4 linked regions of the Homo sapiens genome follow. The protein of the gene in region 3 interacts with the protein of the main gene of each other region in a biochemical or structural test. Each region holds a gene or a part of one and is shown on either strand. Other genes may lie near its edges. The genes, in order: RGS2, RGS4, GNAQ and GRK2.

Region 1 (7,276 bases), on a different chromosome or scaffold from region 3:
CACATAGTAAACACTTCACTGTTACTGAATCCTAAACTAAAACTACTATGTGGTAACATGGATCGATTTAGGGAAAGATGTACAACCAGCTACCTAAGGCCACATAATCCCAGATCTATTGATTTTAAATGCTTTTGGACCAACAGTATTACATTGTCTCTTTCATCATCTTACATTCCTGCTTTTCAGAGTGAGACACCACGTTCAGACCACCTATTCCCTTCTTGCGTTCTGTACACAGTGAGGGAAGCTGTTCTGATACCAGCTTCTCCTAGTCAGTTACTGGCTTCCTGATTCACTACCCAACTTTGAATCAATAGTTCTGAGTGATGTTTCCTGAACACCCAGGCTGAATTCAAGGTCAGTCTTTATGGCAGGTCACAGTCCTTCCCCTCAGGAAAAAGAATGAAATGTCCTCCATTTCTGGGCTCCCTTTTACATTTCATGTAGCATGAGGCTCTGTGGTGATTTGTGGCTTTTTACACAAGTCCTGGTAGAATTCTGACTCCAAGAAACGAGGATAAGAGTTGTTCTCCATCAAGCTGTATACCCTTTTCTGGGCAGTTGTAAAGCAGCCACTTGTAGCTTCTTGTATATTCTGGGCAATCAGAGTTTTGGTTTGAAAATCTATGTTTATCTGAAATAAAACAAAAAAGTTGTTTATTTGGTATTCAGAGTTAAAGATTAAAATTTAGTATTTGAAAACAAAAAATAAAAATTATGTGTGATTAGCTTTACTAGCTAAGTCACAGGAGAACTTTAACATAACTGAAAGCTACAACGTGGAGGGACTTTTTACCCCTCCTAGCCCGCTTTGTCCTTGATTACTTTGTTTCACTTTTGTGCTAAAGATGTCCAGATTGTGCTGAAATTAGGAACTTGTTTCCTTACCTCTTTTGGAGCTTCCTTTTCTATGAAGTCAGTATATATTTTCCTTGCTTTTGAGGACAGCTTTTGGGGTGATTTGGTTTTTTTGAAGTCTTCACAGGCCAGCCAGAATTCAATATTTTCTTCACAGAATTCCGACTTTAAAAAAGCCCTGAATGCAGCAAGACCATCTGAAGGGGGGAGAAAAGAGAGCATGCAGAATGTGAAGAACTGAGAGACCAAATGATTCCTTATGTTTCTCCTATCCCTCACATTTTAATTATTTCTAAATGAATTTTCTAGATTTCGCTCAAACCTGTAATTCTCAAAATTTAGCTTTTTAAAGACTAAGATACCAGTAGGCAAAAGGCTTATGTTGGCACTCTGCTGCAAAAATATAAGTACTTTGCTGTCAATGCAAAGTAAATATTTATAGGGGAGCCATAAATTCTCTGGGAACTAAGCCTCTTGAAAACATTGTATGCAATGGAAAAACTGACTCAACCTTAACTATAAGCAACTGCCACTTTAATTTGTTTAGGCTGATTTTCTTCCCCACCTGGAGAGAATATATGCATTTATTTGTTAAACCCTGGGAAATAAAGGAAAGAAAAACAGGCTTTATCCTATAGTGACTGCAGTCTAATCCCCCTCAGGCAAGCTGCTCTTTTGTTAGGTGGACGCAGCCTTTCCAGGCTTTTGCGATGTTAGCAATGGCTCAAGCTCAAGAGTTAACTTACATTTGCTGGCTAGCAGCTCGTCAAATGCTTCTGACCACAGCTGTGCTTCCTCAGGAGAAGGCCTGCAAGAGAGGTTCTGTATGTTAGCTTACGCACATCAGAGTTCCCCTTTTCAGTTCAGCAGCTAACTATTGATATTTGCAAGCACAGGATTCTCAACTTACTTGATGAAAGCTTGCTGTTTGCTTTTTTTGCCGGTTTTGGGCTTCCCAGGAGTAGAGGAATTTTGTAAGAAGTAGCTCAAACGGGTCTTCCAATCTTTTAAACTAAAACAAAAAATTAAAAAGATAATTACTAACTAGCAACACTTGAATATGCTACTGCAGCTGAACGCATTTTTACCAAATAAAGTCACCCAGTAACTAGAGACAAACCGCATAAGGCAAAGCAAGAACTCTTCAAATAAGTCTTATCCACCTAACATTTAAACCTCATGTACTGAGCAGTTTCGTCCATTAATCTGACCGTATCTACTAGTTTTACAACTAAGGGCAGGGCTACCTATAATCACTAGGGTATTTTAAAGAATTGTTAATGAATTTAGTTCAAAAGGCAGACACTATTTCTGGCTCACAAAGGGCATCAGTTTGTTTGCAAGGTTAATTACAATTCCGAGACGTTTTGCACTTTAATGAAAAGGACAGACATGGAACTGTCTGGAGCCGGCCCACGCTTCTCTCTTTAGAGCAGGAGGTTCTGGACCACGCCAGAGACTGTACAAAGAGGTGGGTGACTGATTCCCCTGCGCTCTTCCTTCCCCACCTACGACACTTCTTTTAAGCAGACGCTGCATAACAATTATTTGTTCCACATTCGGACTGGGTGAGATCTGCTCTATAATTAAAAAACAAAAATGGATTTTAAACGAGTATATTCAGAACCAGCAAGAGCATCACCTTCCAGTAGCTGTGTAAGCTGATGAGAACTCATCATGCAACGTATGAATGCTGGGGACGCGCTTCAGCCGCAGGATTCTGATGTCATTTTGAATGCAGGAGGACAAAAAGCCAACCCGCAATTTCTTAGCGCATCAACCACCGCCCTCATATCAACTGTCTCCCTCGGTTCTTAAACTGTACCCGAGCATCACCCAGATTTAACCTTACTTAACAAATTGACCTTTTCGATTTTTTTTCCCTGCATAGGCTCAGGCTAGTTTCCTAACGTCAAAGGCGAGCCCGAAAGTACCGCGTTTGCAGCTTGCAGTGTGGGGCAGGGGGTGGCGGGAGAGGGAAGAAAGCCATACTCACAGGGTCCGTTTCATCTTTTCTCGCTTCTCCTCGCTCTTGTGGCCACTGCCTGCGCTCTTGTCCATGGGTCTGCAGTCGTGTTGAACAGCCAAGAACATAGCACTTTGCATTATCGTTCTCCCGCTGGAGCCCCGGCTGTTTGCGGCTGGGCGTGCGTCGCAGCATTTATGAGGCCTCGGCTTGGGGGCGGGGCCTCGCGGCTCCGGCCCCGCCTCAAGAGGACGCGGATTGGTCGGCTGCAGACTGGCACGGGGATGGGTCAGCGCCCGCCGGCGGCAGTCACGGCTGCTGCCGAAGGGTCTCGAAGCCGGGGCGCTGCTGACGTCTGCGGCCCCGGCTTCTTGCGCACTCGGGCCACATAGCAGCGGCCAGCTGGGGCAGGTGTGGGAGCAGATGGAGAGTCTTCAGTGTGGGCCGCTGCGCACGACCTTTTGCTGAAGCGTGGCGGCCGGGCGGGCTCGAGGGCTTTGCGACGGAGGGAGGGAGCCGAAGTTGGCGGCGGCCCGGCGGGGGCGCCGGCGCTCCCTCACCCACCCTGACGGGCTCCCCAGCCCGAGGCCAGAGCGGCGATTCCCTGGCAGGAGGAGGTCGCCCGCCACGAGGCCGGAGTGCAGTGGCCTGATTTCGAATGAAGAGTGGGATTTTTCTTCCTTTTTTGAGCGCGTTCCCTGACCCCGCGCCTCATTTCTTGTTTGCTGTCCTGCTGTAGGACTCATTCGACACCCCCTGGTCTGTGAACTGAGGCAATGGGGAGACCCTCGCCCGTTTCTCTCTGCCACTTAACTTAAGGAAGGAGTAACCTGAAACGTTGATTGCCCAGGGGCAGGGTGGGATCTGCTCTGCAGCTTGCTGGGGCGTCTTGGAACACTTTGAGAATGAACATTAGGGATTGAACAAGAGAAAGTGACTTTATCAGAAGACAGTGCTTTAATTGGGTTTGCATTTTTGATCACTACTAGGCACGTGGCTGGGTCTGTCTATAGGGTCATTCCTCAGGAGTCCTTGGTCACATCTCCTGCCAAAATAGAAATCACAGATTTCCTTATGGTGGGAGAGAAAGCTGCAGACATAGAGATTTCATAGCTGTAATGCACCAGAATCAGTGAGTTCAAGGAGTCAGGATTTCCTCATGAGTCATTCTTGTTGAGTTAGGATTTACCAGAACATTTAATAACTGGCAAAAAGTAGGGGGGAGAATGAGTTAACAGTTTCCTTGATTAAGTTTTATTTGTTAATTCTTCAAGTATCATCTCTACTCCTGAAGGTTTTAAAACGACTTGATTGGTAAAGACAAATAGATTACCTCAACCACAAAATGAGTTGATTTCGGATAATATTACCAGAACTAGCCAGTGAAATGTTTAAGCGGCTTTGCAACCAAGCTGCAGATATTCTCTCTACTTTGTATTCGACTTCTTAAAAGGAAATTGGAAATAATTAATATATTCTTACGGTGAGCTGCCAGTAGTTGGAGCTCCAAGTTTGACTTGGAGGGCAAAACCTGCAGTTATTATTTAAGACAACAGTTGTGGACTTTATTGTGGAAAGGAAAATCGTGTAGATTTCAGTAATAGATACTTTGAAACATGCTTGTTAACTCTAGGAATGCCATTTTTTCTTAAGCATATGCTCTTCCTCTCCTATGCTTTGCATAATAGTCCTACATCTATTTTCACTTTCTGATGACTCAATACGTATTTATCAGCTGTCTGTAATACGCAGACACTTGCTTTTTCTCACCACTGTAAACCTCAATATATTTTATACTTAGAACCTTAGATGTTAGAATTTACTCATAGACAGTTAAATTCGCTGGCAGGCCAGGAGTTCTGACAAAGAGGCAGCAGAGAGAGAGAGCTGGACTTCTGTCAGGAGACCCAGTTAGAGCCTGGGCTTATCCAGTAAATGCTAAGTAACTGTTGGGACACTAGCTTCACACCTCTTTGAGTCCCAGTTTCTCATCTGTAATAAGAGTAACATGTATTTTCTTGCCAGCCTCATAGGATATTATGTGACTCTTACATGAAAGGTCTTTTCTAAGCTCTAAAGTACTGTACGGAAGTTTATTACTGATTTGCATATGTGTGGCAAAAGGAAATGTTCAAATCATAGCTGTTCAAGATGGAAAAAATCGTACGAGGATTAACTCAGACGTAATTAGGTTATAAATATGTAGGTACTATTAAATATCAAGATGTTTCAATTTGTAGGTACACAAATACACAAGATACACAAATTTGTAGAAGATTAAGCTCATTATAGATATTTAATAAATGCTCACTGGATAATACGTAGGAAAAATAAGGAAACTGATTAACATTTAAACTTTTCAGGCTGGGTATTGTGGTTCATGCTGGAAATCCCAGCACTTTGGGAGGCTGAGGCAGGTGGAAGGCTTGAGCTCAGAAGTTCGAGGTTCAAGCATTCAAGTTACAGTGAGCTATGATTGTGCCATTGCACTCCAACCTGAGTGATAGAGTGAGACCCTGTCTCTTAAAATAATAATAATAATTAATTACACTTTTCAGATATCTCCAAGCCAAGGAAGTTTAATCATCTCAATATATTAATGAAAGTGAATATACATGTACCTGCATAAGCAACTGGTTTAAATATAGATTATTCTTGATGTTTTTGTGTTTAATATAATTCTTTGCTTTTTTCATAAACCCTTCCAGATCAGTGACTGATGTTAGGTGGCAGAAAATTAATTTTTCTCTGAAAATTATGTGGTTGGTTAATAAATCTGGATATAAATCAACTTGTAATTTTTGTATCTATATGTAATTTTAAGAGTTAAGGCAGTACCTGCTATAGAAACCTTTTCCTCAAAAACTTGCCATGTTAATGTCTTTTAAAAGACAGGCCAATATATGTATATTTACATATACATGTAATATATGTGACATGAATATATACATCATATATTTCACGCATATATGTAATATGTATTACATGTATATTTACATATGCATTACATATATTTACGTATATATAGGTAAAACAAAAGCTGGAATCTTTGATGACTTCCCTTTTTGTTGTTGCAACTGGCTTTTAGGTAAACAGAATTGCTCCACATAAAGATGACACATATTTTCCATCCTGTGGTAGAGGAAGAAACAATGCAGTGGGTTGTAAAAGTTGCACAACAAAACCTCAGTTTGAGAGTGGCTGATAACCTAACCATACATTTTCTGTGTTGAACCTACCATGCCCTCTACTGGAGAGATTGATTGAACAGATTAGTGGTGGAGGTTTTCCAGATAATTTATGAACTTTCTATATTTTTTTAAAAGTTTATAGAAGAAGGCAAAGAAAAAATACAAGTTTCTTGCATAATGTATCTGAGATTCTTGTATTATATATCTTGCGTGTCTTAAATTATGAAGAGTAAAAATTTCCCCTGTCATACTTCTCCCTTCTGCTCCCACTCTATGCTAACCATTATTAATAAAAGTTATTAATTCCTATTCCTATTAACTAAAAATATTTATATAAAATAACTCACCTACTTAAGCTTTAGAAATGTGAAAGCCATTGGATGCTGTGGCTCACGCTTGTAATCACAGCAGTTTGGAAGGCCAAGGAAGGAGGCTTGCTTGGGCCCAGGAGTTCAAGACCAGCTTTGGCAGCATAGCTAGACCCCGTCTGTACAAAAATATATTAAAAAAAAATTACCTACGCATGGTGGCATGCACCTGTAGCCCCGTCTACTCAGTCAGTTGAAGTGGGAGGATTGCTTGAGCCCAGGGACTTTGAGGCTACAGTGAGCCATGATGGTGCCACGGCCCTCTAGCCTGGGTGACAGAGGGAGACCCTGCCTCTTAAAAAAAAAAAATAAATTAAAAATAAAGAAATAAATAAATAAAAATAGGAAATTTAGGAACCAAGATACTTGCTTTTAAAAACACAAAAGTATCATTCTATGTATTATTCTGTGCTTTGCTTTTTTCAGTTAGTAAGATATTTTAGTTTCCAAATTTCTAAGAGCTGTAAACCTATCGTTTACCTTATGAAATGTTAAATAGGTGGGTTAGTTAAAAAAAAAAAAGGAAAAAATCAGGAAGTTACATGCTATATGGTGATGAGTAATTGGAAAAAATGAAAACTTTTATTACCCTAGTTGTTGAATATATTTAAAGAAGTATAATGCCTGTCTTTAAAAAATTTTTTTGTCCTATTTAGTTGGTGAAATATTCTTTTAACAGAATGAAAATATGACCTCATGAGATTTTGTACTATACTCCTTAACCCCTGATATGATCTGAGATTTAAAAATTATGATTAATTTTTGAGAATGTAATTTTCATACCCAGAAGCTGAGAGAAAATGAGTGTTTTGGTCAGAAATGAATCACAGGTTAAACCTAATACTTGACATGTATTATAGCTAAGTTAATAATTTTACCAATCCTTGTAT
Region 2 (6,961 bases), on a different chromosome or scaffold from region 3:
ATAGTAATAACCAGCTTTCTTTAAAAGATACCTAATGGTAGAGCTTGAAGAGTCCATTACTAGTCTATGGCTCAGAGACAGTTTAGGGAACGGGAGTTGGAGTTGGCATGACCTCTGAGGAAAACAAGATTCCTCTTGGTTCCCTATGACTTGCTACAAAACCTTGAGGCAGTCATAACACCATTTCCTTCATCCACAACTGGAATTCTGACCCTTCAGTTTACCTCAGAAACCTGAGAAGCCTTTATATGCCCGTCATTTTGACCAACCGAATATCTTTGGTATCTTCAACAGAACCTGAATCACTGAACACATGAGTGATCTCTGAGTAATTTTTAGGAATCAGAAAGCAGTAGCGGCAAAAGATGCACATCCTTGCTGCACGCCACCTTCTGGCAGGTGATTGCTATTTCCATCTGTTCCCCTGCTGGCAGAGGGAACTGTAGAAGCACCTCGGGAAAGTAAAAGTCTATTCAGTTCCAGCCATGTATGTTGGGGGGGGGGGGGGGGGGCAAGCAGTTCCTGCTGTGAGGTATAGAGGGAGAATACACTGAGGTGCACAGTTCCAGCAGAGGGAAATGGAGCATGGGATGGCGAAAACAAATGCCCAAGCTGAAACCTCAGCTTCTTGGGGCTTCTTTCTAGACAATATCTGCTGCTGCTGCTTTCCTTCTTAATAGCTACTTTAAAGGACATACACACTCTAAAGGGCATTTGAGGCTTAACAGCTATTAGGAGAAGCAGGCTAGAGTCATCACTGAGCTTCCAGTTTATTGCCACCATTTAATAGGTAGCCAGGGCACATTAGAGCTCCTGACTAACTAGAAAAAGGGGGTCTTTTAATAAGCCTTAAGCTCAACTCTCTTACTTTTTATTAAATATCCTCTTGCTTGCATCTCTTTTTATTAAAAAAGTCAAGAAATAGTTTAAAAAGAGAAATACCATTTTAAAAGAAATGAATAACTAAATGTGTCTATTTGGAGTAGGGAAAATAAAGCCTCAAAGATATAAAGACATTTAGGATGGCCACTAATACATTTATGTATGTAGGTTTTCCCAGAAAGTTTGAATTCCATTATGTTCTCTGACTGTCCCTTAAATAGTATTTTCTCTTCCTCGCAAGATTACTTTCCCTCCTCTGCTTCCCTGACTGATGACTGTTCAGGGGATGCAACATCCTTTTTGATTATAACAAGATACAATCCTGAATGTTAGGGTGATTCCAAGGTGATAATGTAAATATATCATGAAGTCCAAATAGAAACGAATTCATATTTCTATGTGCTGGATCCACCTGAGATCCTAGAGTTATTAATCAATGCAGGGGGTAAGTGTGCTTAGCAAGTATTCTTATAATAAAACCATAAAAATAAAAAACAAAATGACTTCAGAAGTTACTGGAGTCAGGAATTCTAGATTTGGTCCTAACTCACCCACCACCTATGTGACCTTGAGAAGGCAATGGCTCCTCTGGAGCCTCAGGCACTGGTGGTAAAGATGTTGGACTAGATGATTTGCAATTTATTGAGGAGGAAAGGGAAGAGCAGTTCATCCTGCTGACATAGAGTTTACCTCCTTAGATTAGCTGCTTAACTCTTTGAGGACAGAGCTCTAGTATTATCTTTTATCTGTTTTGCAAAATATTTACCAGAGCATAACTTTCTCCTGACACTCTTGTATTTTTGTACGGTTCATTTCATATGCAAGTTAAGTGAAGCTTGAAGTAATTTGCTCCACTCCATTCAGAAAATTAAGCGTGAAGGTCAGAGGAACTTATTTCATAGATACTCTCTGCCAGACCCTCCTGCTTCATTTTAAAGAAGCCATCGATACTTCCATACTCCTGAATGACAGAATATTTGGAAAGTAAATGTTTTAATAGTACATAAAAAATTATGTTTTCTGAGATTATTTCCAAAATAAAATTTGTGGTAATTTCTATTTGCAGTGCGATAAGAAAGCAGGTAGTATACCTTTAGGTTGACTTTTTACCTTTGACTGCAAGATTAAGTAATGTAATATGCACTCATTTTGTGTTTAATTTTCAACTGGCTAATATATGATCTTTCTCTGAATGCATTTCTTTATACCTTTTTTGAACAAACCAAAAACAAATGAATAGCTGTATGTCTGTAAGGTCTTTTAAAAAAATCAAGGGAGTATATTAACAAAACAATGTCTTTAAGATGAGATCTTCTACAAAACTATTAACTGATTTGTAATGATCAATATTTCTCAACCAAACTCATATGAGACACTTCAAGAACTAGAGATGGGGCAGAGAGATAAGGAAGATCTGGCTTTAAAACTCATATCTCATTGTAACATTTGCTTATAAGAACATAGAGAGTGAAAGTTACTGCACCACCACACGGAAAGCATAGTGCCTTTCTGATGATGGAGCCAAACCTCATTCTGGGGTACCTTTCCTGAAACAAGTTGTAGCATACAATCAGAAAGCCCAGAGCCAGGCTTCTATGTACTCCAGGGATGCTCAAATAGCAGTAGTAATCACAGATGGAGATATTACAGATCACTGTACATAGCCTCAAACCTCATCTCGCTTCTTAATTAAAACTAGCTTTCTTAGACCTGGCTTAAAGAATAGAACAGTTCTCAAAACTGAGGTCACACAAAACAACACATAAGGGCTGAAATTTGGGGAGCACATGTCTTAAGTCACAATATCTAGCTAGTCTTGGAGGAAAGTTAGAAAGTCGTGCTCTCCTGACCACACTGTTTCTAATTGCACAGAACTAGGTTAGTAAGTACAACATGTAAATAACTGAGAAAGTCTAGCCAAAAGTTTAATATGGTTAATGGCTGAAAGCAATCTTACCTCCTCAAGCAAGAAGCCGGCAGACCTGCAAGCCCTTTGCACATCTTATTTAACAGCTTGGAATTCGCAAGCAGGAAAGAAATGCGGCAGGAGGAGCTGTGGCTTCGGCTTTGAGCGTACTTTGCCTCTTCTCCGGTAAAGATATTGTCAGAATCCTCTGAGCGTCTTCCTGCTAAGCCTGTAGGGGTCTCTTTTATAGCCCAGCTACGACCGTCCAGCCAATCAGACGACCGCTCTGCAGTACCAGCTCCTCTGTCTCCCTCTGCCTCTCCAGCCCCTGAAAGAGATGAGGAAGAAAAGACTGACGCATCAGCAATGTTAAGTGAACGAGCAGAGAAAATCCTTCTGAAAAGTAGGGATATGGGAAAAAATGTACTCAATGTCTCCACCAATGTCAGAGGTTTAGAATTTCTAGAAAAGGAAAAAAAGTGTACAATGCTGCAAAATATAGTTTTTATTCATATGCCTGTAAAAAAAAAATATCAAGGAAGTTGCTTCCTGGAAGGAAAAGTACCAGCAGGAATTCTGGAGCTTACTTAGGAGCTGACTCCCAATGCCTTTCCTCTTTTGGATTAGAAGCATCATATTATACATGGTCCAAGATCTGATCCTCACGATTTCCAAAAGGGAGCTGGCAGGATCATCGTCTCCACGCAGTGATTTGCGGAAGTTGCCTTGGTTGTTATGCAAACAAGAAGGTGGAGAGAAATAGCTGGATGACAGACAGTTATAAGCCCGGCAGCATACAGAAACTACCCTAGGAAAAATAGATTTGCTATATCTGTAATCAACCTGACTGAGGAATACTTTTCTAGAAATCTTGGTAACAACAGAATTCAGCCTAGCACTGACAGTTTCTCCTTCACATGCCTGCGTCCTGTAAAAAGTCTAAACCGGCAGCTCGAGGACCAAAGGAGGGAGTAGATGAGCAAATATACACAGCAATTCTTATATCAAATGGGTTTATGTCTTATGTAATTCTAAGTCTCCAAACTGATATTTCAAAAGATAAAGAAAGAGAGATGTAGAGAGAAAGAGAGAGAGCAGGCAGAAAAATATGTAGTTTGCTTTGCGTATCACCAGCCTTCAAACTGATTGTAAGAATATTAAGCCCTATAGGTGTTTCTGAACACCTAGACAATCAGTATCTTTTACATACAATATCATGAACTGAAATGCCTGCATGGACAGAATCATTCAGGTGTTTCACATCTTATAGCCATAAACCAAATACCTACACCAGAGTTACAGAGGAAAGCTATAAGTGGAAGAAGGGAATTAATTGCTAGATCTGACCAAAACAGCTTTCATTTAGAAAGCAGATAGGTTCCTGATCATAGGCTACAGTGAGCTATACTTTATATATAAGAAACAGAGGCATCAAATAGTTTAGGTGGAAGAGATGAAAAATAGTTGGGTTCCAGTGAGATGCAAAATACCAAAAATATAGAAAGAATGGCACAAAGCAATGCCCATATGTGGCCCTACCCAATACGTGCCCTTGAACATCCCACACTGCCCCCACTACCAACACGTTCCATGACTAGCAGAGCAAGGAGACAGCAGACAAATGTAAAGTGGTGGAGGGACCATAATCTACAGAAGATGCATTTAAATTATAGGAAAAAGTCTCTAGCCGCCCATAAGAGGGCATTTATTGGATTAGCTACTGGGCAACTTTTCCTTGAATTATAACATAGAACAAATGAATGTTGACAGCCATCCTTGATGGTGGTGTGGAAGGAACTGAAGTGCAATATGAAACTAGGAAGGCCCTCAGACCAAGGAAGATGGACCAGGGAAATGAATCAGTCAGAACTGACATTAAAGAGGTCAGACTAATTAAAAGGGAAAGAAGGTCACTCAAAGAAAGACCATGGCCTTCTTTGTTTACCTGGGCACCTAAAAGAGTGATCACTCAAATAGATTGATTTCAGGAACATAAGTGAGTACCCAAAAAGATTTACTGATGCCTGAAATTCCACAATAAAAGTTTTATGTCTTGCACTTAGAATAAGAGAAGCCTGATTTGTCATGAGTTAAATATAAATCACTGCAATAGATGGGACTTTAAAGACAAAATGGGACTTCAAAGGCAATCTAGCCTAACACTCTCATTTCACCAAAAAGGAAATAGAGACCCAGAAAGAGAAAGTGACTTGCTGAGGTTACAGCTTCTTACTAACAGAGCTGGGTCCAGATACAGGTGTCTCGATACTCAGTTATGTGGATTGTCCACCATGCTATCCCATCACTCAACAGTCTTATCAAATAAGGTAAACTGTGTAAATAGAGATATTTCTAAACTACAAAGTGCTAGTCAAATAATTTTTATCATTCTATTATACACAGTATAGAACATAACCCAAAATTAATTTTACACATTTTATTCAAGGAGTGTTCACTTGCCCAATTTGTTCTTGCTCCTTGAAAGCAGGAGCTGCTGCTTTCAAGACATATTAACTAACATGTCTCTAACTTTGTGCTTAGCTCATTACTCTGTTCAGGCATTTCATGTTTACTCACTTCTTTGACTATTAAATCTTGCTTTCTTAGGAGTTTTAAGACTTTTAAAAAAGTGTTTGTAAAACGCTTCACATGAGTTAACTTACTTTTTCACTGTGGGACTTGCAGATTGTGTTTGAGGAGGCGAGGACTGGTACATCATGATACCTTGACAACCTTCCACCTTCTTTCTCTGATATGCACAAAGCATCAAATTCTGTTATTCTATGATTTGTCATTCCTGAATGACTCTGGTAGTGTGGAAGAGCTTTACTCTCAAAAGATCTACTTTTTATTTGTTCATTTGTTTAAGAAATATCTTTTGACCACCTACTCTGTATCAGGTGCTGTTTGAAGCAGTACCTGATACAAGCAGATAAAATCTCCGCTCTAGTAGAGTTTTCATCTCAGTAGAAGGAGTCAGAAAATAAACAAATCAGGTGATTCCAGATTTTGACCTGTACCATGAATAAAATGGGCAGGTGATGTGCTAGAGAGTAATCAGATGGTGAAGGGCTAATTCAGCCAAGGTGGTCAGGAAAGCCCTCTTTGAAGAGGTGGTATCTAAAATGAGATTTGATGGGTGAGAAGGAGAAAGCAATGCAAGAAGCCTAGGAATTAGTATTCCAAATAGAAGTAAGAGCAAGTGCGAGTGTTCTTTATCTAAATTGGGAAAGAACATAGCCATAAAAAAGAATGAAATCATGCCTTTTGCAGCAGCCTAGATAGAACTGGGGGCCATTATCATAAGTAAAACAAGACAGACACAGAAAGACAAATATTGCATGTTATCACTTATAAGTAGGAGCTAAATAATGTGTACACATAGATGTAGAGTGTGGAATGATGGACAATGGAGCCTCAGAAGGATGAGGGGGCAAGAAGTCAGCGGATGGTGAGAAATTACTTAAGGGGTACAATGCACATCATTCAGGTGATGAATACCCAGGGGGCAAGAAGTCAGCGGATGGTGAGAAATTACTTAAGGGGTACAATGCACATCATTCAGGTGATGAATACCCAGGGGGCAAGAAGTCAGCGGATGGTGAGAAATTACTTAAGGGGTACAATGTACATCATTCAGGTGATGAATACCCTAAAAGCCCTGATTTTATCACTATACAACCTATGCATCTAAAAAGATTTCACTTATAACCCATAAATATATACAAATTTTAAAAATTAAAAAAAAATGGGAAAGAACAAGAAGGGGCCAGCATAGCTAGAGAATTGAGAACAAGATGAAAGTAGCATAAAAGGAGATGGAAAAGTAAACGATAGATCGTGCAAGGATTTGTAGGCTGTGGTCAAGAGGCTGGACTTTATCAGAGTGCAGTGGAAATCCATGGAAGAAACAGAAGCAGAGGAGGGGTCTCATCTGATCATTCTGACTCTTGTGAAAGAAAGACTGAGATGAGTGGGCAGAGTGTGGAAGCAGGGAGACCAGTTAGCAGAGTTAGCAGTTTGATTCCTGTTTCGTCGATTATATATATATTTATTATTATATAGTAAGTCCTCAATGTCATCAATAGATTATTGGAAACAGTGACTTTAAGTGAAACAAGGTACAGCAGGTCCTTGAATGCCATCATTTCATCAATGCCATTTCATTATAAC
Region 3 (7,672 bases):
GAAATCAACCGTCCTGGATTCAAAAACTCCTGAAATCACACTCATACACATACACGCACGCACAAATCCACATTTAGCGTATATTACTACAGAAATAGTGTAAGTATTGTAGTATTCATGTTGCAAAAGCAATATACCAAGAACATGAAGCAGTAGCAATTCTTGCATGATGTTCCGCTAATAAGAGGAAAAAAAAGTTCTCCACACTACCACCACTTTAGCAGTAAAATTGGTTTACACTTTTTCTCAGAAAATTATCTCCAAGTTCATTTTTAAAAGCACAGTGTTATTTAAATACACAGTATGGAATTAAGCATCCATGTAAGTGTATTTCCCTTAGACATTCAAACCTAGGCCCACTGAGAAACTCCCTGGGCTTTAACTCTTAGCTGCTGGGAAACTCAGAGCTGTCACTTTTCAGGCAAATAGGGTTGGCTGGAGAGACCTCAACTGCCCAGTTCACAATTAAACAGAAACAAAGACTGTCAACAGGGCAATAAAATAAAAAAAAAACACAATTCTTAAAACAAGTCTCTCTAAAATACGTGCGTTTCCCCTTAATTATACACTTAAAACACTCTTATTTCTTTTGTTCTTTATTTTCTTCTCAACCTTGAGAACTCAGAAAACATTCAACTGCCTGTTTTCAGCCACTAGAAGTAGCTCAAAATGAGAATTAAAAAAAAAAAAATCTTTACTTTCCAATTGCAGTTTGCCTCCTCCCTGGCTTCATTCCCCTAAGCCCAACTCTTTCATCCAGTGCTTTTGCCTTCTGCTTTTTATAAACATGTGCACATTTATCTAATTGAGTTTCAAAATGAAGACATAAAGAAAGCATGTCATGGGAATTAACTATTAGTAACTATGTGTGTGATCAGTATATTTTGTTCCTGCTTGTAAATGATCCAGTACATAAGCAGTTCATTCCCAAAGGCAATTGGTTCCTTGAGCCAGCAAATGGAATGCTCAAGATAAGAAAGAAAATGCATGCTTCTCACAAACACCAACTAACAGTACAATATTCTTTTCTTACAGAAATGTTTGAGAAACACATTTATTATACATGCAAATACCCAGAACACAAGTGCAGACATTTTTCAGGCCCGTTACTGCAAAGCTGTTTGCTCTTCCTGCCACAGTAGCTCAGGGTTCTGTCACTGTGGCTTGTATATGAACCCTGATCGCTTGATTCTGAACATCCTCCCAGAGATAATCATCAATAAATTTCTATTTGAGAAATGGCATTTTCTTGCTAACTTAGTGTTGAAGCAGAATTTTTTTTTCAAGACTAGAGGGAAATTTTTCCTGTATGCTTCCCGTTTTTCCTTCTCGCCCAGATTCCAAAGACATTAAAATGCTATCTGTTTTAAACAAAAGGTTTCTATTTGTTGCCAAGAGAGTAACTGAGAGACTGCACTGGTTTTCGGTAGTAACTATTGTGAACTGAGGCCTACATCTAGGTTGCCTCATTAAACAAAAGATACCGGTCGCTGTCAACAACCACACAGCACAACGCTCCCCTACCCTCATCTTTATCTAGAAGGAATGGTGCAGACGAGAATAACGCCTGTCACCATCCACTGGCCAACTCTTCTAGGCTCCCTCCTTTCGATGGTCTGGTGGCTAGAGAACAGCACTTGTGTGACACATTTGGGCTTGCCCTCCCGCCTCGCCCCCAGTACACAGACCCTTTCCTTGGAGGGCCAACCACTTGGCTTCCTCACCATGAGTGCTCCGGGAATCCAGCTGCGAGTCTGCCCACCGTTCCCCCATTCCCTCCTGACCCCATAGGGCACTGATAATGGATGCACACCGGCCACTCCACCGCAGGCCATCCCCCAACGTGCCCCGGCTCCGCTCGCCACCCGCTGGGCCACACACACGGCTCCCCACGCCACCACCCCATGGGGTGCCGCGGCCACGACACTGGAAGTTCAACCCCTCTGCCCACCTTTCCACCCCCGCGCCTCTGGTCGGAGTGATCTGCCATTTAGCAGATGCACAGCAGATAAGGTACAGCCCTCAGGGACACGAAAAGGAACAAGCCAAGGCACCGGGCAGGGCAGCCCCGACCCCTGTGCTGCGTGTGTGTGTCGCTGTGTGTGTGTGTGTGTGTGTGTGTGTGTGTGTCTGTGTGTAACGCGCCCGCGCGCCCGCGCGGGTGAAGGCAGTGGCCGGGGGCGCGCCCGGGAGGGTAGGGGCGAACCGCGGGCGCCGGGGGGCGGGGGCGCCGAAGGCAGCTGCCCCGCAGGGCCAAGGATGGTGGGCTGGGGGCGCAGAGGCCCGGCGGGGCCCCGGACGGTACTCACCGAGCAGCAGCAGCTTGAGCTCCCGGCGGGCGTCCCGCTTGTCCCTGCGGAGCTGCCGCTCGATCTCGTCGTTGATCCGCCGGGCTTCCTTGGCCTCCTCGCTCAGGCAGCACGCCATGATGGACTCCAGAGTCATTCTTCCAAAGTGCCTCCGCTGCAGCCCCGCCGGCACCCCCTGCTCACAGCGCGCACACACACCCTCCCGCCCTCGCTCCCCCGAGGCAGCGGTGGCCGCCGAGCCCCCGCCGCCCGGGCGCGCGTCCGGGACGAGCTCCGGGAACCGCCGCGGGGGCGGCGGCCAGGGCCGGGGCCACCAGGTGGGCCGGGGGCGCGGTGGGAGCGGATAGTCTGGGCCGACGGGAGAAGAGAGGCGGGCGCGGGAGGCGGGCGCTGGCTCGGGGGGCGCGTGAGAGAAGGCCGCCGCGCCCGGCCTCGCTCAGACGCCCGCGCCTCCTTCCCCGGGAACAGGCGGCCCGCCTCGCCCCCCGAGCCGCCGCCGCCGCCGCCGCCTGCGAGGCTCCCCTACGCCGTGCGCCTGGCGGCGAGAGCTCATTCACCGGGGTGTCCCCGCAGCGAGCGGCCGCCGACGGCTCCCCGCGCCCGGCGCGCCCGCTCCTCGCCGCCGCCTGACACGGCTCCCGGGCGCCCTCGGCCCTGTCCGCGCCCACCGCCCGGCTCGCGCGCAGACCCGGTTCCCGTCCCGCCCGGCAACCGCGCGCTCCTCCGCCTCCGCCTCCGCCCCCGCCCCCGCCAGACGCCCACCCCCTGCCCCGATTGCCAGGCGCGGAGCGGCTGCTCAGTGCGAGCCCTCCCCCTCGCCACACACACACATTTTCTTCTTTCTCTGAACTGGAGCACAGATCCGGGAGGGAGGAGGCGGCGGCGAAAGGAGGAGGAGGAAGAGGCGGAGGGGATGGGCGCGGGAGGAGGGAGCCGGGAGGCGGTGCCGCCCGGCCCCTCCTGGAAGGCTTTCCTGGGCTCGCGGCCGCCGCGGCGCGCCTCCCAGTGCGGCTCTCGCCTCGCCCGCGCGGCTCCCGGGCTGGGCCGGCCCCCGCGGGCTCTGCGGACGCCTACTGCTCCCGCACCCTCGGCAGAGTCCGCGGGCGCAGCAGTCACGGCCGCCCCCGGCCGAAGTCGGGGCCAGACCCGGCCGCCGACGCGCAGCCCGAGCCGGCGGCCGCCGTTGCGTGCCAGGGCCGCAGCCGACCTGCGGCTGCCGTCCGGCCGGGCGTGGTGAGACAGGAATATGGCGGCCTCTGCCTGCCTCAGCCCACCGGCCCGGGAGCGCGGCCGCGGCCCCTGCTGAAGTCGCGGGAGGCGGCCCCGCGGAGCCCCGCACGCGCTCCCTGCGGCGCCGGCGCTGGCGTCCGCCGCTCCCGGGCTGTGCCTGTCTGCTCCACGGGGTCGCTCCTCAGCCGTTTCTGTGTTTCCCGTTCCTATTTCTAAAACGCCATTCGGTTAGAAACTCTCACGTCACCTCTGACACCGGTGCAGTCTTAGAAAATAAGCTCCTCTATACTGTGTGGGGCTACTGGGGAAGGGAAGGGAAGGAATTGGCACCGGTGCCCAGAGGTGTAGGGGGAGATTCACAGGCGAAGCTGTTCGCAAAGTAACGTGAGATAGAAATCTAAATCCTGAACAGAGAAAGGAAGCTGCCCAAGTTTCCAAGAGCCTCCCGATAGGTTCCAACTTTTCATGCCTTTGTTTTTTTGGTGGTTGTTGGTTGTTTTTGTTTTTTTAAGTTGTTTTTGTTTTTGTTTTACAAGTTCTCTTGTTTCTGAGAAGGCACACGATGTTTAGCCGCCGAGTAATCGAATTTACTCTTCTAGACTGAGATTGAATTATGGATGACTTATGGGAAAATGTAAAATAATGTGGAATAAAAGGAAAGGAAAGAATGAAATAGAAGAGAAACTAAGGAGGCCCCAGCAAAACGGCATTCTAGTTTTTTTGATTTGCAATATGTGATTGAGGCAGTAAACTGTCGTATGCACATTTCATTGTGATCGTCTACTGATAAATAGCACACGAAAATAATCTTGTTTAATCAGGCCCAGGAGATGAAACTCATATTGCTTCCTGCCTTAAAGGAACCTGAGGTCTTCAAAGAAAATTGTCTTTTATGAAGAGAACCGCTTTTTCACGTTTCATGTGTTCTCTGAAGTGTCCCTGGTGCAACCTGCTGATCCAGAGTGTAAGGTACGGTCATGACTCTGCTTTTGCTACAGATCAAGAACTCATATAGGGTTCTTAGACAACAGGTGTGTAACTTCCTTCTTTCTTTCATTTGCCATTACTCCACCGTTTCACACACATACACACACTCTAAACCACGATTTAAATCAAGCAAGTCAAGATATAAAATATATATTTTAGGTTCTCTGTTTAAAACCTAGAAAATAATTAAATTTCACCTTGCCCTGGAGAGCAGAGAGGGCAAACCTCAACCCTTTTATGTGAATGCCTACAGAGAACAGCTAGACTTGCTATGAAATTAAAATTTAAAATCAAGTGACTAAAGAAATTAAAGATTGAAATTCAGTATGCAAAAATAGAAAGTGGCTTCAGAAGAAAAAATTTTAAGTTTGCATCCTCCGAATATATGTATGTATATGAGCTTTGGAGAGACACAGAACACTGGAAAACCAAATGACAGAAAGCTTGAAGTCTCTGGTTACCTACCCAGGGATCCTCTGAGACTTTTAAAAATGTCTTTTAAAATGAGCCATCAGGCTATCAGGTAATATGTTTTGACTGAATTGTCCTATTATTTGATGAATTCATCTGTTTCAGCGGGCTATAGAGTCAGAGTCTGTTTTGTCCCCCCTGTATCCCCCCAACATCATGAACACTCCCTGGCAACTTAGATACTTAAATGGATGCAATGAATCAATAGGAGAATGTTTCAAGTATTGGGGAGAAACCAGGAAGTAAGAAAAACCAACACTCTACAGTGATAAAGCCATATATGGGTGTCAAGAAGGAAACAGGAAAAGAAATTCCAAGTCTGAGCCCAGATCTATCCAAAAACCTTTTCATATTATCTGGAGAGCGTTTGCCAAGCAAATATTCCTAGAGACTAAGTCAAACAAATAGAACCCATGCAGAAACAACTGATAGTTGACCATGTTCTACAAGCACATACTCTAAAACATGCAACTAAACAGGGATTATGTTACAAAATCCCAGTTCATTCAGTCAACAAGCATTTATTCATTGCCTACTATGTGTAAATAACAGGTGAAGGTACAGGATAAGAGAGATACTAAAATGAATAAAATACAGTCCTTACCCTCCATAGGCTTATAGTCTTATAATGAGGCTCTAAGCAGCTATAATACAAGACTAAAATCAATTTGTATAAAATTTGGGGTGGAAGTAACAACATAAAGGTATAAAAAGGAAGGGGAGAACTGGAAAAGATACGGCAGGAAAAGGGGCATTGACATGCATGTTAAAGAATGAAAAGGTTTTCAATAAATAGGTACCTACATCACCTCAAAGTAAATGAGCAATTCCAAGTCACCCCACACAGAGAGTAAGATGATAAACCATTTTGAGAATTCAAGGACAATTACTAATGAGCTGAAAAGCAAATTGCAATACCCAAGGAAAATTGAACTTCAGAGAAAAATAGGAAGACTGTCACCTTTTCTATGGTATCCTGAGATGGATCTCCAACCCCACAATCATATCACCCTGTCCTTTGGGGACTGGCAAAGAAAAACAGTAAAAGGCATAGTTTAGTCTTAAGGAGTGGTTCTGCAGTCAAAGAATGAAAAGGCCATGCTCTTCTAAAAGGATCTCCTGGGGAAGGAAAGGCCCATAGAGGTCATCAGACACAGGCAATATACAGTACCTCTCTTATTCCCAGTCACTTAGCATGGCTGCTTCATATGCACCATACTACTGTCATTCTCTGTGTTCTCTTTCTCTCTGCCCCCTTCCCCTCTGAATTAGGAGCTTCTTGAGAGCGGGGACCATGTTTTTCATAACTGTTTTCAAGGCACCAGAAAGAGAGCCTAGCCTAGAACAGCTACTCAGTAAATAATGAATAAACAAAAGAATGCTACCACCTACATCATCAACAAACACACACTTACAGACTGCCTGTCCCAGGCAGTGTATTATGCCAGATGCCTGAGGCATACAAAGCCCTTAAAGGCTTCATAATCTATTTGGTGAGACAGGCCATGTGTTTCAAAGAATAAACAATACAAAATGAGAAACACTCGTTGCTAACATACAGTATGGAAAATGGATTGCTAACAAAGTTCAAGAGAAGCAGTTCCCTAAGCTGCCATTCAAATTAACCCAGAGTATGAGGAAGCACACGCTGGTCACCCAGAAGACCTTTTAGAAATCAGCCTGAAGAGCATCGCAGATCCTACAAGAGCTGGGAAAGAGATGTCTGGCCAAGTAATAAAGTGGACTTGCTCGTGGGGAAGAAAAAGAAGCCGACCTAGTGAGACGCTGAGAGCTGCAAATGGCGCCACCTACAGGAACATTCTTATAACAGCAGAAAAACTGAGATTCTTAATTGGAACTGTCCTGTTGAAAGAAGAGCAGGGCCAACATGTTGAAGATGAAAAACTAGGCACGAAGCACATCTTCTAAAAGAGAAAATACCCACATTACAAATCATATAGCAGATATTCTAGAATCTAAATGAAGCATAGTACCTCAGTGACATCTTTCCTTTACCAAGCTCAAAAAACGTACCCGGGTAATACTCTGATTCCAATCAAATGTATCTATCTTGTGCTTATCCAGGGTTAGCAATATCAAGGGAAGTACTGTACTTTACAGTTTGAAGGCCACCAAAGTCCCGGTAGACTGGAAGACTCTAAAAGGCTTGTCAGATGGGAGCTCATTTTAAGCTGAGTAGAATAGTGTTTCAGCCAGAGAAGCTAATGTTTGATGAATGAATAAGCAAATGAACCCATTACGTTCATTTCCTTTTGATGATTTCTCATGTAAAGCTCAATAAGGCTGAGATTTTTGTCTGTTTTGTTCACTCCTGAATCCAGCATCTAGAACAATGCCAGGAGTATAATAGATGTTTAATAAACATTTGTTAAATGAATGAAAATTAGATCTTCCAGTGAAAGAAGCCACATGTTGACCACATGACAGTCTCTCTCTCTCTCTTTTTTTTTTTTCCTTAGCCAGATTGTGTGCACCAAAGCTTGGCTCCCTCTGTAAAATGTTCTTCCACCCTGTGCTTCAAAATCTTGCCTCCAATGCGTTCACCAAGGAAAATTAGCCATCACTAGAGTATTCAGAAAGTTGGGAAGCAGTATTTTTGTTCAAAACCCAGATGGAAGCCTATATTAATTCCACCTAAATCAACTTTATAGGAG
Region 4 (7,030 bases), on a different chromosome or scaffold from region 3:
ATAAACATAAAAAGCTGCTATCATCATCATCTGTGACAAGGGCCCCTCTGGAAGCCAGTTACTAGCTGGTTCCAGCAGCTCCAACTCCCAGGGCAGCCCCTCCACTCTGAGAACATTGGACAGGGCTGGCCATGCCCCAACTTATGAGCTCCTCCAAGGAGGCTGGGACCTTGGAGGGGGTTCCAGGTGACGGGACACAGCCCTTGTCCTCATGGGGGCACAGCCAGCAGCATGCCCAAGGCGCCAGGGTACTCACCCTCGGCCCAGGCAGCCCAATCTCCGGTTGACATCCCTCTGCAGCAACCCCTCCAGCAGGGAGCGTAGTTCAGGGGAGAAGGAGTCGGGCAGCTCCACGGCCTTTAGAGAGGAGTGGGACATTAGCAGGGGCTTAGGAAGAGCCCTTGACCCCATCCCAGCTCAGGGGAGAGAGGGGTCCAGGCCCCCGCAGAGGGACAGATGGGGCACAGCATCCTAGCTCGCCCAGCAGTCATGCTCCAACAGCACGGGGAGGGCGAGAGCCTATGGGGCAGGAGGTCTGTCTCAGAGGCCAGAGTAGGGGTCAGTGGCCCAGATCTCTGCTGGCTGGTGGGAAGCAAGAGTCATGGCCTGGCACCCACAGGAGCTCCCCCCAGCCCCCTGCGGCCCTGCACTGAGACCTGCACCCACCATCGTCAGCGTCATGCGGTCGATCTCATGCTTGTCTTTGGTCTTGTGCTGCCGGAAGGGGCTGTGCCTGGGCAAGAAAGGCCAAAAACCAATGTCAAAGGACAGGAATGGGGAAAGGGAGGCAGGCAGCATGGATGAGCTGTGGCCAAAGTCAGGGACGGTGCCAACCCTACCACCAAGGCAGCTATGGGCTCCCCTCCTTTGGCATCCCACCTGGATTGGGGAGGAACTTCTCTTAGCCCCAACCCACCTGCCCACCTGGGATGGGCCACTCACCCCCGCAGCAACTTGAAGAGCATGCACCCCAGAGAGAACCAGTCGGCACTGCTGTCGTAGGCCACGCCCTTCTGCAGGACCTCCGGAGCCATGTACCCGTGGGTGCCCCTGTGGGAGCAAGGGGGCCATAAGCGGGAGTGGCAAGGGGTGGGGAGGGAGAGGGTGGGGGGCACTCACACGCTGGCATGGGGCTTCTTCTTGGAGAAGTCACAGGCCAGGCCCAGGTCCGAGATCCGCACGTGGCCATGCTCGTCCAGAAGGATGTTGGCTGGCTGTGAAGGAAGCCCAGTGAGCTGCCTGGGGCAGCTCAGGATGGGGCCCAGCCAGGCAAGATGCCAGCTGGGTCACTGCTTCACTGGAGAGGACGATGGGTACCCAAAGAAAGGGCAAAGGTGGGGGTCCTCTCTCCTGTCCCCAGCTACAACCTGGACCCAGAGAGTGGCTCGGTGGGAAGGGCAGGGGCGGAGATGGGAAGATACGGGGCGGCCATGTCCCAGGAGCCCCACTCCTCTGGGCCTGGTGGCCGGGATGTCGAGAGGAAGGAGAGGACAGCCACGGAGGTCCAGCCTGGGGACAGCAGGGGCGCTCACCTTCAGGTCCCGGTAGACCACGAAGCGGTTGTGCATGTGCTCCAGGCCCAGGATGATCTCGGCCGCATAGAAGCGCATGTCAGCCTCTGAGAAGACCCCGTGCTGGGAGAGGTGGTAGTGCAGGTCCCCACCTGAGGGAGGCAGTCCCACAGGCAGCACTCAGTGTCTTGCCCCAGCCTCCCGTGCCTGGGCCCGGCCCACCCTAGGGCCCGGCCAGCACTCACCGTTCATGAGGTCCAGGATGAAGCTGAGCTTGTCTGGCGTGTGGAACGCGTATGACATGCAGACAATGAATGGGCAGTCCTAGGAGGGGAGAGGAGGGGAGGGGGCGGGCAGTTAGCAGGGGCGCCCGGGGTTCCAGAGCCTCAGCGGCAGCCCGGCCCACCCAGCTCACCCCAGTGCTGACGAGCGAGAGCATGATGCGCTCGTTCAGGGCCAGGGTCTCCCCCTGCTTCATCTTGATGCGCTTTTTGTCCAGGCACTTCATGGCGTACCTACGGGGCAGAGGTCGGCAGTCAACACCCACCCTCAGAGCAGGGGCCCAGGGCTGCCTCAGGGGGCGCTTGAGGGAAAGACTAGACCCAGGACCAGCGTGTGACACAAATCAGAGACAGGGAGGGCTGGGGCCAGAGGAGCCTGCGGGGGTAACAGCACGGCAAGACAGGAGTGCATGGAGCAGCAGGTGGCCCTGTGTGGAACCCGGCCTGTCAGGGTCCCCCAGGAGCCCGGCTCCCCGAGGTATCCCACCGCGCCGAGCAGGGTGCTCACATCTTGCCTGTGTCAGCCTTCCGGCACCCATAGACCTCGCCAAAGCCCCCGCGCCCAATGATGCGATGCACGCTGAAGTCATTCATGGTCAGCTGAGGGGCAGCGACAGCTGCGGTCACCACAGGCTGCCTCTGCCCAGCCCTGGGGCAGAGGCACCTGGGCAGCAGGGGCTGGCCCCATGCCAGGGTCCCCATACCCATGTCCTGGCCATCCTTGCCACATATTTACCTGCTCCGGCCTCCCCATGCTGGGATCCCGGCCCTGACCCCCATAGCCACGGCCCTGGGGGCTAAAGGACAGACATCCCCTGACCTCCCCCTCCCAGCCAAGCCACAGGCCCAGCTCCCGGGAGAGGAGCAGCAGGGTGCGTGGCTTTCCATGCCCCACCCAAGCCCACTCACGTGGATGTTGAGCTCCACATTCTTCCACTGGCAAAACCGTGTGAACTTATCGCTGGAAAAGAAGAATCAGGGCTCAGGGGCCACTCAGAATGTGGGAAGGATGATGCTGTCGTGAGCCTCCCCACCCAGCCGCCACTCCCTGGGGTCCCGTGAGGGTAGGTGTGGAAACATCACGAGCGTTAATGTCCTCTTCCAGGAAGGATATGTTGAGGGCCTGCCCGCCCACAGCACCAGTCAGGGCTGCTTGGGTGCCCAGCATGGCCCTCGGCCACCTGGCCGTGGCTTCCTGCTGGAATCAGATCCGCACAGAAAGGAGGTCTTCCAGTCTAACCCAGACTTCCTGCTACCATATCCTTGACAAGTACGTCTCCTGTCCCTGCTTGCATACCCCCAGTGACACAGAGCTCACTCCATGGCTGGGCAGCAGTGACCCTAAAACAGCTGCTCCCTAAAGCTGGCTGAAATCTACCTACAATTCCCACCCACCGCGCCAACTCTGGCTGTGAGGGTCACGGGGGCCATGCGCTCTACTGGGCCTACCCCTACCAGGACTCTGATGCTTCTCAGTCCAGGTGGGCCAGCAAGGTGCTATACAGCCCACGGGAGAGAAAGAGGCACAGGTGGCACAGCTCTCCTAGCTCCCTGGAGCTAGGAGACTGCCTGGGATGGGCTTTGAGCTGCCTGGTGCTGAGGAGGGCAGGGTGGGAGATGACCTGCAGCCTGTCTGACTTCTCAGGAGTCCTTGCAAGGGGGCCGCTGACGGGCCAGCCACCTGCCTGCTCAGGGCCTAATGAAGGCTGGCTTCTGCCCTCCACGCCAGCCATACCCCTTCTGAGAGCGGCCCCTCCCTCCCCCTTCCTCTCCCACACTTCCCTGCTCTCACCTCTCAATGAATTTCTGGAACACGTCCCCTCGGAGGTTTTGACAAATCTCTTCGATGTATGGCTAAGGGAGGAAGCTGGAAGTTGGTGACTGAGCCCCGAGAGACCGTGGTTGCCCAGGCCCCACCCCTGGCTGACCAGGCTTGTTGACCAGGGGCTGTCCAAGGTGACCTTGCCTGGGGAGGGACCGGGAGGCACACACCTGGAAGAGATCCGGAGGCACCTGCTTCTTCCCCAGGTGGCCTTGGACATGCTCAGTGGCACTCTTCGAGAAGGGCTGGGGAAGACAGAGGTGGCCATGAATTCTCAGCAGGGTCCTCTCTTCCCCTCCCAATCTGCAGGTGACTCTGGGCCAGCACACAGGGCCAGCTGAGGACACTCACATGCGAGCAGGCCAGCAGCTCCTTCATGATGTATGAGTCGAAGATCTCCCGGCTGCGGGCCACACGCTCCTCCTCCGTCTCCAGCTTCTCGTACTTCTTGATCTGGAGGACAGGATTCCTGCAGGTCATCTAGAGCCCAGCAGGGAATGGGGATGCCCACACCAGGCAGCTTGTGGGTTCCACAAAGCCGCCCCAACCTCCTCCCCTTTCTCCAGGCAGAGCAGGGCTTGGGCCTCTGGGTCTCACCTCCTCATAGAATTCCACCAAGGGCCTGGCCTCCTCCAGGTGGTTCAGGCAGAAGTCTCGGAAGAGCAGGTACCCTGAAGGCAACAGTGTAAGGTCACAGAGCCACGCCTCTCTCAGAGGCCTTCCCATCATTGTGGATGGTGTGGGTTGGGCTCCCTGGGCAGAACTGGCTATGGAGGTGGCAAAGGTGGTCTCGGCCCCAGGCAAGGGGTGGGCCAGGCAGCTGCTAAGGCTGCTGCCAACGTGAAGATTCCTGGATTCTGGGTTGGGGCCCCTGTGTTTCTACCCTCTTCCTGAAATCTGTTTCCCCAGGTGGTAGCTGGACGGCGATGGGCACCAGGGTGAGGCAGAGGAGCGGGGTTGGCTCTGGCATCAGGGAGCCCTGGCTTAGCACCTGGGCCCCCACTCACTGCAGCCCAGGGCCCTGCGCCTGCTCTGTGAGGCCGATACCCCCCACCGGGGCGGGCTGTGCAGGTGCAACACGATTCAGTCTGGGGGCCCTGGGATGCTGTGGCCACCGGGGCCAGGTCAGGCTGCAGCATGGGGAAAAGGTTAGCAGGGGGCTCTGAGGCCACACCACTCCTCTGGACCCTGCCCCACTCCAGTGTCTGGCTGATTTGCACAGCAGCCTGAGAAACAGGCAGGGAGGGTGGGTCCAGTTGGGGAAACTAGGGCTCAGGGAGCTGGTCAGACACACTGTCTGTGGCAGAGGCTCAAGTGGAACTCAGGGCTACTCCACCAAATGGCAGGTCCCTGGGAAAGAGGTTGGGGCTGGGGCCTCAGGGCAGGGGGCATGGAACGGGTGTAAGCCACAGGGAACTGGAGAGGCAAGGTGGGCTGTGGGAGGGGCTCTCAGGGGACCCCAGATAGGGTGTCCTCATGCCTGAGTAAGGGGCCTGGACCCTGGACCCCGGCCCCCGAGCACTACCAGGGGACAGAGGCCCTCCTCAGGCCTCCAGTCTGACACGGGTAACCAGGCTCGAGCTGGGTGGCCTCTCATGCCTTCGGGGGCACTGCCTGGGCACCTGGGTCAGAGCTGCGGCCATCATTTCAGTCCTCACTGCCTGGCCTTTAGTGCAGGGCCTTTGAGGAATGGGGGCCAGGCTTCACAGTGGGCACAGTGCTCCCATCTGACTCTGACAGGCCTGCACAGTCGGACTCATGAGTCCCATCTCCCAGATGAGGACACCATCAGGCTCAGAGAGGTGAAGCAACTTGCCCAAGGACAAAAGGCACAGGCCTGGGACCCAAACTTTGTGCTTCTTGACACACCGACTCCCCCAGGCTGACCCCCAATGCCTGATCCCATCAGGCCAGGATACCCCCTGTCCAGAGCTGAGCTCCTGTTCTCGGGAAGGCCAAATCAGAGCCATGTGGGGCTGGAGCCTGCTTCCCGAGACCTGCCCCAAGCCTGCCCTCCGGGCCAGGTCCGCAGGGTGGGTCACATGAAACTTCTGACAGCAGGCATCAGACACCAGCTGGAGGAGGAATGGAGGGCCAACACCAGGCAGGTTGCTTACAAAGAGGGCCCATGGGGTGGGGCGGGGCCAACCACAGCTCGGCAGGCGCCACAGGAAGGGCCCCGCCTCTTCCTGTCAGTTCTACCAACGGCCCAGAGCAGCTGCGGCCGCGCCAAGGGGAAGCTGCAACTCTCAAAAACAAAAACCCCAAAGGAGGAACTTCCCTGGCGGCCCTGGAAGACTCTGGGCCCCCACCCCCACCACGGGGCTCCCTGGGCCGACAGCCAGGGGCAAGGAGGCACGCAGGGTCGCAGCGACTTGGAGCAAGCCCTGGGGTCTCGCTGGCTGCTCCACCCTGAGTGGATGGGAGGCCAAATCTCTGGAGAGTGGGGAGCACAGCTGGGCTGGCTGGGGTAGGGGCAAGAAGTTAAGTCCGGTGGCTGGCAGAGCCACTGCCATACTCACCCAGCTTCTGGGAAAAGATCTTCTCAAAGGTCACCTCGCCCCGGTCCTCCAGGTACTTCTGCATGACACTGCGGATGCTGTGGGTCAGGGGGGCGCAGTAAGCAGAAGCCCCCAGAGCCCGTGGGGGCTGCAGGCCCAGAAACGCGAGCTGAGGGCACTGTGGTGGTGTCGCCACTCCCTCCAGGAAGGAGGCCAGCCCGTCAGGCCTACTCACTTATCCCAGCCACAGGTCAGACCAGAAGGCTTCAAGGAAGCCTTTGCCTGCACCGCCCCCGCCAGGCTGTGTCCTCAAAGGCCAGGGTGGCCGGCAGGTGGCCCCCTGCTCAGAGGCCCACCGCCTGTGGGGTCTCGTCCCAGTGATGCCACCGGCTGGCTTTGGGAACTTGGCCAAGTCACAAAAGCCAAGCCTGGTTTGTGAGCGGATGAAAAGACACACATGTGGCATCTCCACGCAGCAGCACATGGCTCGGCTGTAAAAAGGAACAAGGCACCAACAGGGGCCACAACGTGGATGAGCCTTGAAAACATGAGGCTGAACGAAGCCAGTCACAAAGGGTTGCCACATATTGTGAGATTCCACTCATATGAACAGATCCACGGACACAGAACGCAGATCCGTGGCTGCCGGGGGCTGGAGAGAGGGAGAGGAGTGACTGCGGTGGGGACGGGGTTTCTTTTTGGGGTAAGGGTTGCACAACACGGTCAATGTACTAAAAAACACTACATTGTATAATAAAATGATGAATTTTATATGAATTGCATCTCAATTTTTTAAATTGTAAGAAAAGGCCATGCCTTGGTTCGTGTGTCCCTAGTACTTGGATATAAAATGTGACCCCTGCCCTGGGTTGCTTGGTATGGCCATAGGGGAGGGCCTGGCCATTGTGACCCTCA

The links.
Region 1: the proteins of GNAQ (region 3) and RGS2 form a complex in vitro, tested with the Homo sapiens proteins (one study listed by BioGRID).
Region 2: the proteins of GNAQ (region 3) and RGS4 form a complex in vitro, tested with the Homo sapiens proteins (3 studies listed by BioGRID).
Region 4: the proteins of GNAQ (region 3) and GRK2 form a complex in vitro, tested with the Homo sapiens proteins (3 studies listed by BioGRID).

What each region holds. Positions count from the first base shown.
Region 1 is NC_000001.11:192,804,763-192,812,038, reverse strand, and holds the start of RGS2 (regulator of G-protein signaling 2), read right to left. Parts: upstream 3,001-7,276; 5' UTR 2,968-3,000; coding exon 2,858-2,967; intron 1,874-2,857; coding exon 1,772-1,873; intron 1,670-1,771; coding exon 1,608-1,669; intron 1,059-1,607; coding exon 892-1,058; intron 638-891; coding exon 443-637; 3' UTR 1-442. UniProt on the Homo sapiens protein: Regulates G protein-coupled receptor signaling cascades. Inhibits signal transduction by increasing the GTPase activity of G protein alpha subunits, thereby driving them into their inactive GDP-bound form.
Region 2 is NC_000001.11:163,065,407-163,072,367, reverse strand, and holds the start of RGS4 (regulator of G-protein signaling 4), read right to left. Parts: upstream 2,884-6,961; coding exon 2,840-2,883; intron 464-2,839; exon of another isoform or gene 225-463; intron 1-224. UniProt on the Homo sapiens protein: Inhibits signal transduction by increasing the GTPase activity of G protein alpha subunits thereby driving them into their inactive GDP-bound form. Activity on G(z)-alpha is inhibited by phosphorylation of the G-protein.
Region 3 is NC_000009.12:78,028,791-78,036,462, forward strand, and holds the start of GNAQ (guanine nucleotide-binding protein G(q) subunit alpha), read right to left. Parts: upstream 3,022-7,672; 5' UTR 2,446-3,021; coding exon 2,310-2,445; intron 2,132-2,309; exon of another isoform or gene 1,952-2,131; intron 1-1,951.
Region 4 is NC_000011.10:67,276,455-67,283,484, reverse strand, and holds part of GRK2 (beta-adrenergic receptor kinase 1), read right to left. Parts: intron 6,214-7,030; coding exon 6,137-6,213; intron 4,286-6,136; coding exon 4,212-4,285; intron 4,068-4,211; coding exon 3,966-4,067; intron 3,860-3,965; coding exon 3,785-3,859; intron 3,647-3,784; coding exon 3,585-3,646; intron 2,754-3,584; coding exon 2,702-2,753; intron 2,393-2,701; coding exon 2,301-2,392; intron 2,027-2,300; coding exon 1,927-2,026; intron 1,836-1,926; coding exon 1,757-1,835; intron 1,664-1,756; coding exon 1,533-1,663; intron 1,215-1,532; coding exon 1,120-1,214; intron 1,051-1,119; coding exon 943-1,050; intron 734-942; coding exon 667-733; intron 358-666; coding exon 257-357; intron 1-256. UniProt on the Homo sapiens protein: Specifically phosphorylates the agonist-occupied form of the beta-adrenergic and closely related receptors, probably inducing a desensitization of them. Key regulator of LPAR1 signaling.